Homo sapiens: one gene and its partner. The protein of the gene in region 1 purifies or fractionates together with the protein of each later gene. This does not show direct contact. Each region holds a gene or a part of one and is shown in the gene's direction. Other genes may lie near its edges.

What was found.
Region 2: the proteins of PLB1 (region 1) and DEFA1B purify together in Homo sapiens (affinity purification with mass spectrometry, with the first as the bait; one large-scale study listed by BioGRID). This does not show direct contact.

Annotation. Positions count from the first base shown.
Region 1 is NC_000002.12:28,597,001-28,600,816, forward strand, and holds part of PLB1 (phospholipase B1, membrane-associated isoform 1 precursor), read left to right. Parts: intron 1-1,004; coding exon 1,005-1,048; intron 1,049-1,651; coding exon 1,652-1,760; intron 1,761-3,808; coding exon 3,809-3,816. UniProt on the Homo sapiens protein: Calcium-independent membrane-associated phospholipase that catalyzes complete diacylation of phospholipids by hydrolyzing both sn-1 and sn-2 fatty acyl chains attached to the glycerol backbone (phospholipase B activity).
Region 2 is NC_000008.11:6,996,235-7,000,559, reverse strand, and holds DEFA1B (neutrophil defensin 1 isoform 2 preproprotein), read left to right. Parts: upstream 1-1,361; 5' UTR 1,362-1,437; intron 1,438-2,282; exon of another isoform or gene 2,283-2,317; coding exon of another isoform or gene 2,318-2,326; intron 2,327-2,796; coding exon of another isoform or gene 2,797-2,808; coding exon 2,809-2,983; exon of another isoform or gene 2,984-3,114; intron 3,115-3,563; coding exon 3,564-3,673; 3' UTR 3,674-3,794; downstream 3,795-4,325.

The DNA of each region.
Region 1 (3,816 bases):
CGCCTGTAATCCCAGCACTTTGGGAGGCTGAGGCGGGCGAATCATGAGGTCAGGAGATCGAGACCATCCTGGCTAACACGGTGGAACCCCATCTCTACTAAAAAACAGAAAAAATTAGCTGGGCATGGTGGCGGGTACCTGTAGTCCCAGCTACTCGGGAGGCTGAGGCAGGAGAATGGCATGAACCCGGGAGGCGGAGCTTGCATTGAGTGGAGATCACACCACTGCACTCCAGCCTGGGCGACAGAGCAAGACTCCGTCTCGAAAAAAAAAAAAAAAAAAATCCATTGACCTGGAATATAACATGCTGGGATTCGAAAAAGAGACACAGAAGAAAAAGAACAGTAAATACCATATATATGAATATCAGATTTTGGTAAAATAGAAATAGTACTTGTCTTCTGTGTGTCCTACTCAATTTATTAATAAATGCATAAAAGGAAACAAAATAGGGTGTACCTTGAAGTTAGATTAAATGAAAATTAGATGGGGCATTGAAAGGTAGTGAGCAGCCACCCTTCTGAACCTTCTATTGGAATTTACCTGACTGCTGAGCAGAGAAGAGCTTATCTATTTTCCAAAGGCTTCCAGCTCAAATTGGGTTTCAATGACTTTTAACAAGTTAATTAACCTCTGTGCACCTCATTTTCTTACTCTGTAAAATGGACATAGTCACATCTACATCACTGGCTTGTTGGGAGATGTGAAATCACAGAATCTAGTGCATGTCTGGGCACATAGTATATACTCAGCTAAGCATTCTCCCTCCTGATCTGGTAAAGAAACAGCTCTCTCATCTTCAAATCCTGGATTCGGTAGGGAACCAATATGTTAGGGGCTTAAAAATTTTCTCAGAATTCCTCAAACTCAGAGATGGGTCTGGCCCATCTCAAAGGTGCCGATGGGCACTAAGAAGGGTGGGGGCTGCTCTTGTGTAAAGTTCCTAGATTGATTCAACCAATATGTCTCTCCCTCTCATTCACTGGCTTGCTCACTCCCTACAGTGCAGGAGGGGACGGCTCCCTGGAGAATGTGACCACCTTACCTAGTAAGTAACCATCAGGGGCTTGAATCTGTCTACTGTTCCACCCATCTGGCCCCTTGGCTTCCCGAAAGTGCCTCCCAGGTAAGCAGCAAATGACATCTGCCTTATGGCCCAGCATTTAAGTAGGAGACAGGAGGCTATGAAAAAGCAGCCGAGGCAGGTAAAATAAACACCAGATTTAGAGCCTGAAGATCTGAGTTCAATCCCTGGTGCTTCAATCCCTGGTGCTGGGTTCAATCTCCGATGTGCTTGTCAGGTGACCTAGGGCAAGTTACCCGCTATTTTTAGCCTCAGGCTTTTCCAACAGGCCCAGGAGGTGCTGAGACAAATTAGGTAGTGACCCTTCAATGCACTGTGAATTGTATTAATACAATTTAATACAAGAGTGAGAGGCTCTTGCCACCCTGGCCCACCTAGTCATCAGGTCATGTCAACTTAGGGTGGTCCCAGCTTATGTCCAGGACACACACTGCCTCCCTGCCTCTCCCCAGGAAGCATGAGGATGATAACACAGCCCACTTTGGGGACCTAGGTCCCACAGTACCAGAGAAGCTATTCTGGCTTTCTGTTCTGAGCCGTCTGCATCCCATTCACCTTCTCTTCCAGATATCCTTCGGGAGTTTAACAGAAACCTCACAGGCTACGCCGTGGGCACGGGTGATGCCAATGACACGAATGCATTCCTCAATCAAGCTGTTCCCGGAGCAAAGGCTGAGTATGGCATTTGGGGAGGGAGGGAGCCTGCAGAGCAGGGAGTGGAATGTGGATAGTACCCTTTAAGACCATGGGGCTGGCCTCTATGTGCAAAGGGGCACTTAGCCACTTGTGAGGCTCAGGCTGCCCTCTTCCCTGCTGCCCCTGTGACGAAGGTTGTAATAGGCCAGAGAGGCTGTGGCCTTGGAGAGATGCGATGCCCCTATAGGTTCAACTCCTGACCTTGCCTTCATGTGCAGCATGTTCTCATAATTGGACGAATCGACTAACCTTATCCAATGTTTACAACTCACCAAGGCACAACAGTGCTAGAGAGATCCACTCCCCGCAGAACCTCACAAGTGGCAATTTCCCAAAAAGATCAGAGAGGGCCAACCAAATGGATGGGGCAAGCCTTCTGGCCCTAGAGGCATCTGGAGCAAAGAGTCATGTCCCCTCCCTAGCCCCATTATGGAGCTAACAAGAAATGGAATGGAGAAGCCCAGAGGTACCCAAAGAAGAGCAACTGCCCAGCCTCCTGGGGTGGGCTCCAAAGGGGCCCCCACCCTGCTCCTAGAGGCCCCAGCAGCCTAGGTCTTCTTGCTCTATGCAGCTCCTGGCTCAGCCATCTGAGCCTCTGTCACATGTCATCTTCTTGCTCAGGCCCACACCTTCTGGTTGAGGGGTGTGGCCCCCAGACCCACTCCCTCAGCCTGGAAAGACTCTTGGTAATAGAAACAGCTGGGGACAGATGGTCCCACCACCGTGTCCTAGGAGATCACCTTGCTATGGATCCATCCCACCCAGGTCTATAACGGGGCCCTGAACAAGTGGAAGTGGGGAGCACAGACGCCTGAAATCTATTCCTTCCATAAATTATAATTTTGGCCTTTTTTTAGATAGAGTCTCATTCTATCACTCAGGCTGGAATGCAGTGGCACAATCTCTGCTCACGGTAACCTCCGCCTCCCAGGTTCAAGTGATTCTTGTGCCTCAGCCTCCGAGTAGCTGGGATTACAGGCTTCTACCATCACGCCCAGCTAATTTTTGTATTTTTAGTAGAGATAGGATTTCACCTGTTGGCCAGGCTGGTCTCAAACTCCTGACCTCAAGTGATCCACCCACCTTGCCTCCCAAAGTACTTGGATTACAGGCATGAGCCACTGCACCTGGCCTTTTTTTGTTTTTAAGATGGGGTTTCACTCTGTCACCTAGGCTGAGTGCTATGGCATGATCTCAGTTCACTGCAACCTTCACCTCCCAGGTTTAAGCAATCATCCCACCTCAGCCTCCCTAGTAGTTGGGACTACAGGCATGTACCACTATACCTGGCTAATTTTTCTGTAATTTTTGTAGAGATGGGGTTTTACCATGTTGCCCAGGTTGGTCTCAACCTCCTGGACTCAAGCAATCCACCCACCTCAGCCTCCCAAAGTGCTGGGATTACAGGCGTGAGCCACCAGGCCTGCCACCTTCCATAAATTATAAACCCAAGCATGTGTAGAGCACATATGATTCCCTACCTCTTTTTGAAAGAACCATTTAGATAAGTTTACAAACAAAAGAATATACGTAAGAGAAAAATCGCAGCCATTGGAGGAAATAAAGAGGAAGCCTGTGTGTCGATATGAACATTTTTACGGTTATTATGTTTGAGCATCAAACTCAGCTTCCTGGCAGCCAGAGTGAAAAGAGGAAGCATGCTAGAAGTTTCATAGGTCTAATTTTAGGATCTAAACTAGTCTTCCAAAGGAGATGAATGGTCTCTTAGCATGGAATCCTAAAGGCCCTTTTGCATGTGGAGTCCCAGAAAGGTGACCATGAGCAACAAATATAATTGGCAGTACTTTGACTACAGCTGTAGGACAAACACATCATTGGCTTTTCAAATGATTATCTGTTGTAATAACTTTCCAGAAGAGGCAAGTCACTCCTGGTTTCTGAGCCTCGGGATCTCTGCCAGCTCATGCAGTGGGGATGATACTGTAGAAGCCTCTGGTTCAGGCCCTCTAGGAGGAAAACTATGGGCACTGTTCCTCAACAGAAGGATGGGTTTTCTCTCTTTCTCAGGGATCTTA
Region 2 (4,325 bases), on another chromosome or scaffold:
TCAATATAGAAGCACTGGGAAGAAAGCCCTGAGTGACAAGATGTCAGTGTTCTCTATGATTGGCCTTGCTTGGTATCTTATGTACAAATGGCTTGTGGGGTAGCTGTTTAACCCAGGCCTGGCAGCCTAGAGGGCTGCTGGAACAGGACAGCCCTAGTCAGAATTTGTACCCCAGACTGGAAAACTGGGGAATTCCCTGTAAGCCCTGTTACAGGGGCTGCACCCCAGATACAACCTGACCTGTGTCCAAGGCGGGCAACTCAACCCTTAGATATTGAATGGGTCCCATGGCACCAATGCTTAAACACCAGCAGCCCTCACAACCACAGATCGTGTTTTAAGGATGAGGAGGTAGTTCTCTGGATGCACAGGCTTCAATCCAAATGGGCTCATGACGCCGCAGCACACACCCAGACTGCAGCCTGAAGAGTTGGAGCATTGCATTCACAGAAAGCATCCAGACATGATCATGGGCTCAGGGATACACCTGTTCTCCGATGTGTACCAGTGAAGGATGGAAACTCCTATGCCTCCCAGAAAGCACCACTCAAGCTTTTGCTGAATGCTTCTCTGAAGGCCCACAAGGCCTGAGAGGCTGTGCAACACCAGCAGTAAAGTGAATGCCCAGACTCCCACCTCCTTTCTTGGGTGGCCATCTGGAAAGGCCACTCCCACCCTGATGGCTAATGCCTCAGACCAGTTCTTGGCCCAGATGATCCTAGACAATTGTTTAAGCTTAAACTGTTCATTGGCCAAGCAAACAGGTGATAGTCACCTCTGGGGAACCACATGCCGCGTGTACATCCAGTACTCAGGAGAACCCAAAAATGTCTGTTCCACATAGCAACAGAAGCCCAGGTAGCACTCATTCTCACCTGGGTGTTCTCCAACATCCCAGCTCAGCCAAATGGCTTTCATTGCTTTTTATGGTTAGACCCCAGGTCCTCGGGACACTGCTTTAGAAACACATTCCAAATCCTCCTCTGTGTGTAGGTGGCATTCCTATCCCAATCTCTTTGCAGGGTGTATACTATGATACGCAGCCAGGCTGTCCCAGAGGCTTTAAATATTCCCTTGGTGCAGGTAGTTCAGCTTAGCCACAGCCAATGCATCACAGGGTCAACTGTGTTAGGAGCCATTGAGAATCCATAGTTGGTTGCTGCCTGGGCCTGGCCAGGGCTGACCAAGGTAGATGAGAGGTTCCTCTGTGGAGTTCTACTTTAACCTCACCTTCCCACCAAATTTCTCAACTGTCCTTGCCACCACAATTATTTAATGGACCCAACAGAAAGTAACCCCGGAAATTAGGACACCTCATCCCAAAAGACCTTTAAATAGGGGAAGTCCACTTGTGCACGGCTGCTCCTTGCTATAGAAGACCTGGGACAGAGGACTGCTGTCTGCCCTCTCTGGTCACCCTGCCTAGCTAGAGGATCTGTAAGTACTACAAAACTTAAACTTTACACTGAGTTTTCATTATTGAAGCTATGCCTCCAATCTGACCTCTGACTGTGGGGCCACCCCAGAGGGAACCAGCGGGCGAATCCCTGCTAGGAACGTCTGTCCGGACCTCTGGTGACTGCTGGGGACGATGGCTTCCAGCTAACTTAATAGAGAAACTCAAGCAGTTTCCTTCTAAACACACATGTCCTGGTTGACATGTCCAGTAGAGACTATCACAGGTCTTTGGAACATTCTTTTGAGAGAAACCTATTTAGGTCCTTGGTCTGTTTTTCAATCAGGTTGTTTGATTTTTGCTATTGAGTTGTTGGAATTCCTTATGTATTCAGATATTTGCCCCTTCGGCCATGTAGGTTTTGCAAATATTTTCTCTCATTTTCTGGGTTATCTTTTCACTCGGTTGATTGTTTCCTTTGCTGTGCAGATGCTTTAGCGTTAAATGAAGCCACACTTGTCTATTTTCCCTTTTATTGCCTGTGCCTTTGGTGTCATAGCCAAGAAATCATTACCTACATCAATGTCAAAAGCTTTATCCTTCTATACACTTCTAGTAGTTTATGGTTTCAGTTGTTACATTTAGGTTTTCAATTCATTCTGAGTTGATGTTTCTACATGGTGTGAGATAAAGATTTAAATACATACATATATAAAATCATGAGGTAGTGTACACTATAAATATACAATTGTTAATTGTTACTCAAGTCTAAGTAGAGGTGGAAATAATAAACTTTCTTTTTTTTACTTAAACCACTCTGTGTCACTGAGCTGATTTCACCTTTAGCCTGATAAAATCATTGTCCTCTCCACCCTGATTCCTACAGGAGACTACTCACCCCATAACCTCAAAAACCTCTTCATGAGGATGGTAAGTCACCTGAATCCTGAAGTGAATTACTCGCTATTCCATTGGAACTCATATAGGACACCAGAATCTAGACCTCCAGAGAACAGCAGGACCCATCTTCAGAAAATAAGAAGCATTTGTTCCCTGAGCCTGTTGAATCAAAGTGCAATTTCTATTCTTTTTGGAATGTTAAAAAGTGAATCATAATATTTAAGCAGGTGAACCCACGAGTAACATAGCAGGGTCTTTCTTGTCATTATTAGCTCCAACCTAGCACAGACATTAAAGGTACAGATGTATACTAGCATGAAACTGGGAGAACAGGAGCATTCGAGCAACCTTGAGACCAATGGGCCTCTCTTATAAAATGCACACCTCCTCTCACTGAGATTGAGGAAGGTTTCTTGTCTCCGAGCCTTCTCCCAGTAGAGCTATAAATCCAGGCTGGCTCCTCCCTCCCCACACAGCTGCTCCTGCTCTCCCTCCTCCAGGTGACCCCAGCCATGAGGACCCTCGCCATCCTTGCTGCCATTCTCCTGGTGGCCCTGCAGGCCCAGGCTGAGCCACTCCAGGCAAGAGCTGATGAGGTTGCTGCAGCCCCGGAGCAGATTGCAGCGGACATCCCAGAAGTGGTTGTTTCCCTTGCATGGGACGAAAGCTTGGCTCCAAAGCATCCAGGTGAGAGAGGCAGGCATGCAGAGCTGCTAAGTCTAGAGGGAAGGACGGGAGAGAGGTTCCAGAGTTGGGTCTCAGCAGTCTATGTCACTGAGGTGGCTTCACTTAGAATCTCTGGGCATTGATTTTCTCATCTAGAAATTGAACAGAGAGCCAAATAAACATGAGAAACTTTATTTCTCCAAAGACTTGATTCCAAGAAACGTCTGTGAAATTCACTAAGTTTCAGATATGAAGAGACAGACTAGTTATTTCTGGATCTAAACAAGTAGACTTAGTTGTAAAGAGAACATTTTACTCTATCTACAGAAGAGCTTTTAAAAACTGCAGCCAAGCCTGAGGATATGTTCAGGTGTGTGTGTGATGGGGCAGGAATGCAAAAATGAGAGCAAAGGAGAATGAGTCTCAAATTCTGAGTGACAAGCACTGCTCTGCGTGTTTATTCCTATCGACTGAGGTTGTTCGTGCTAACGGCTGCAATGCAGCCAGCATCACCTGTCAGCTAGCATGTGACTTCCCCGAGATTCTTTTTCTTACCCACTGCTAACTCCATACTCAATTTCTCATGCTCTCCCTGTCCCAGGCTCAAGGAAAAACATGGCCTGCTATTGCAGAATACCAGCGTGCATTGCAGGAGAACGTCGCTATGGAACCTGCATCTACCAGGGAAGACTCTGGGCATTCTGCTGCTGAGCTTGCAGAAAAAGAAAAATGAGCTCAAAATTTGCTTTGAGAGCTACAGGGAATTGCTATTACTCCTGTACCTTCTGCTCAATTTCCTTTCCTCATCCCAAATAAATGCCTTGTTACAAGATTTCTGTGTTTCCACCTCTTTAATGTGTGATATGTGTCTGTGTCAAGACACTTGGGATACACGTACCAAAACGCAAAATCAAATTTTTGAACAATATAAAATTCCAAATTCTAGGAATTTCAAGCAGGAGTTTGGGCTTCAGATCCAAATTGAAAAGAAGGCCCATATGACACCACTGATTTCCCCACCCACTGCTCTGCCTTTTCACCCTGCCTCATTTTCTCTGGATCCACTCTCAAAGAGCTCGCGTGTGCTGGGCAAACAATCGGTGTCAGCTTACATTTCATGCAGTCACAAAATCATTACTTCTCCGGGAAAAAAAAACCATCCTCTGTGCTAAAGAATTGGAGTTTCATTGAACAATGTCAGATTGTACATTTTCCTTTTAAGACATAGGGTTACATGAGATCCACGGAAAAAACTTTCATTCAGAGGGAAATGGGTTGTTAGCAAAGGCGGGATACATGGAACAGAAAGCACAGCATCTCACATTGGCACGTCCTCATTAAGAGGACCCTCCAGCCACGTCTA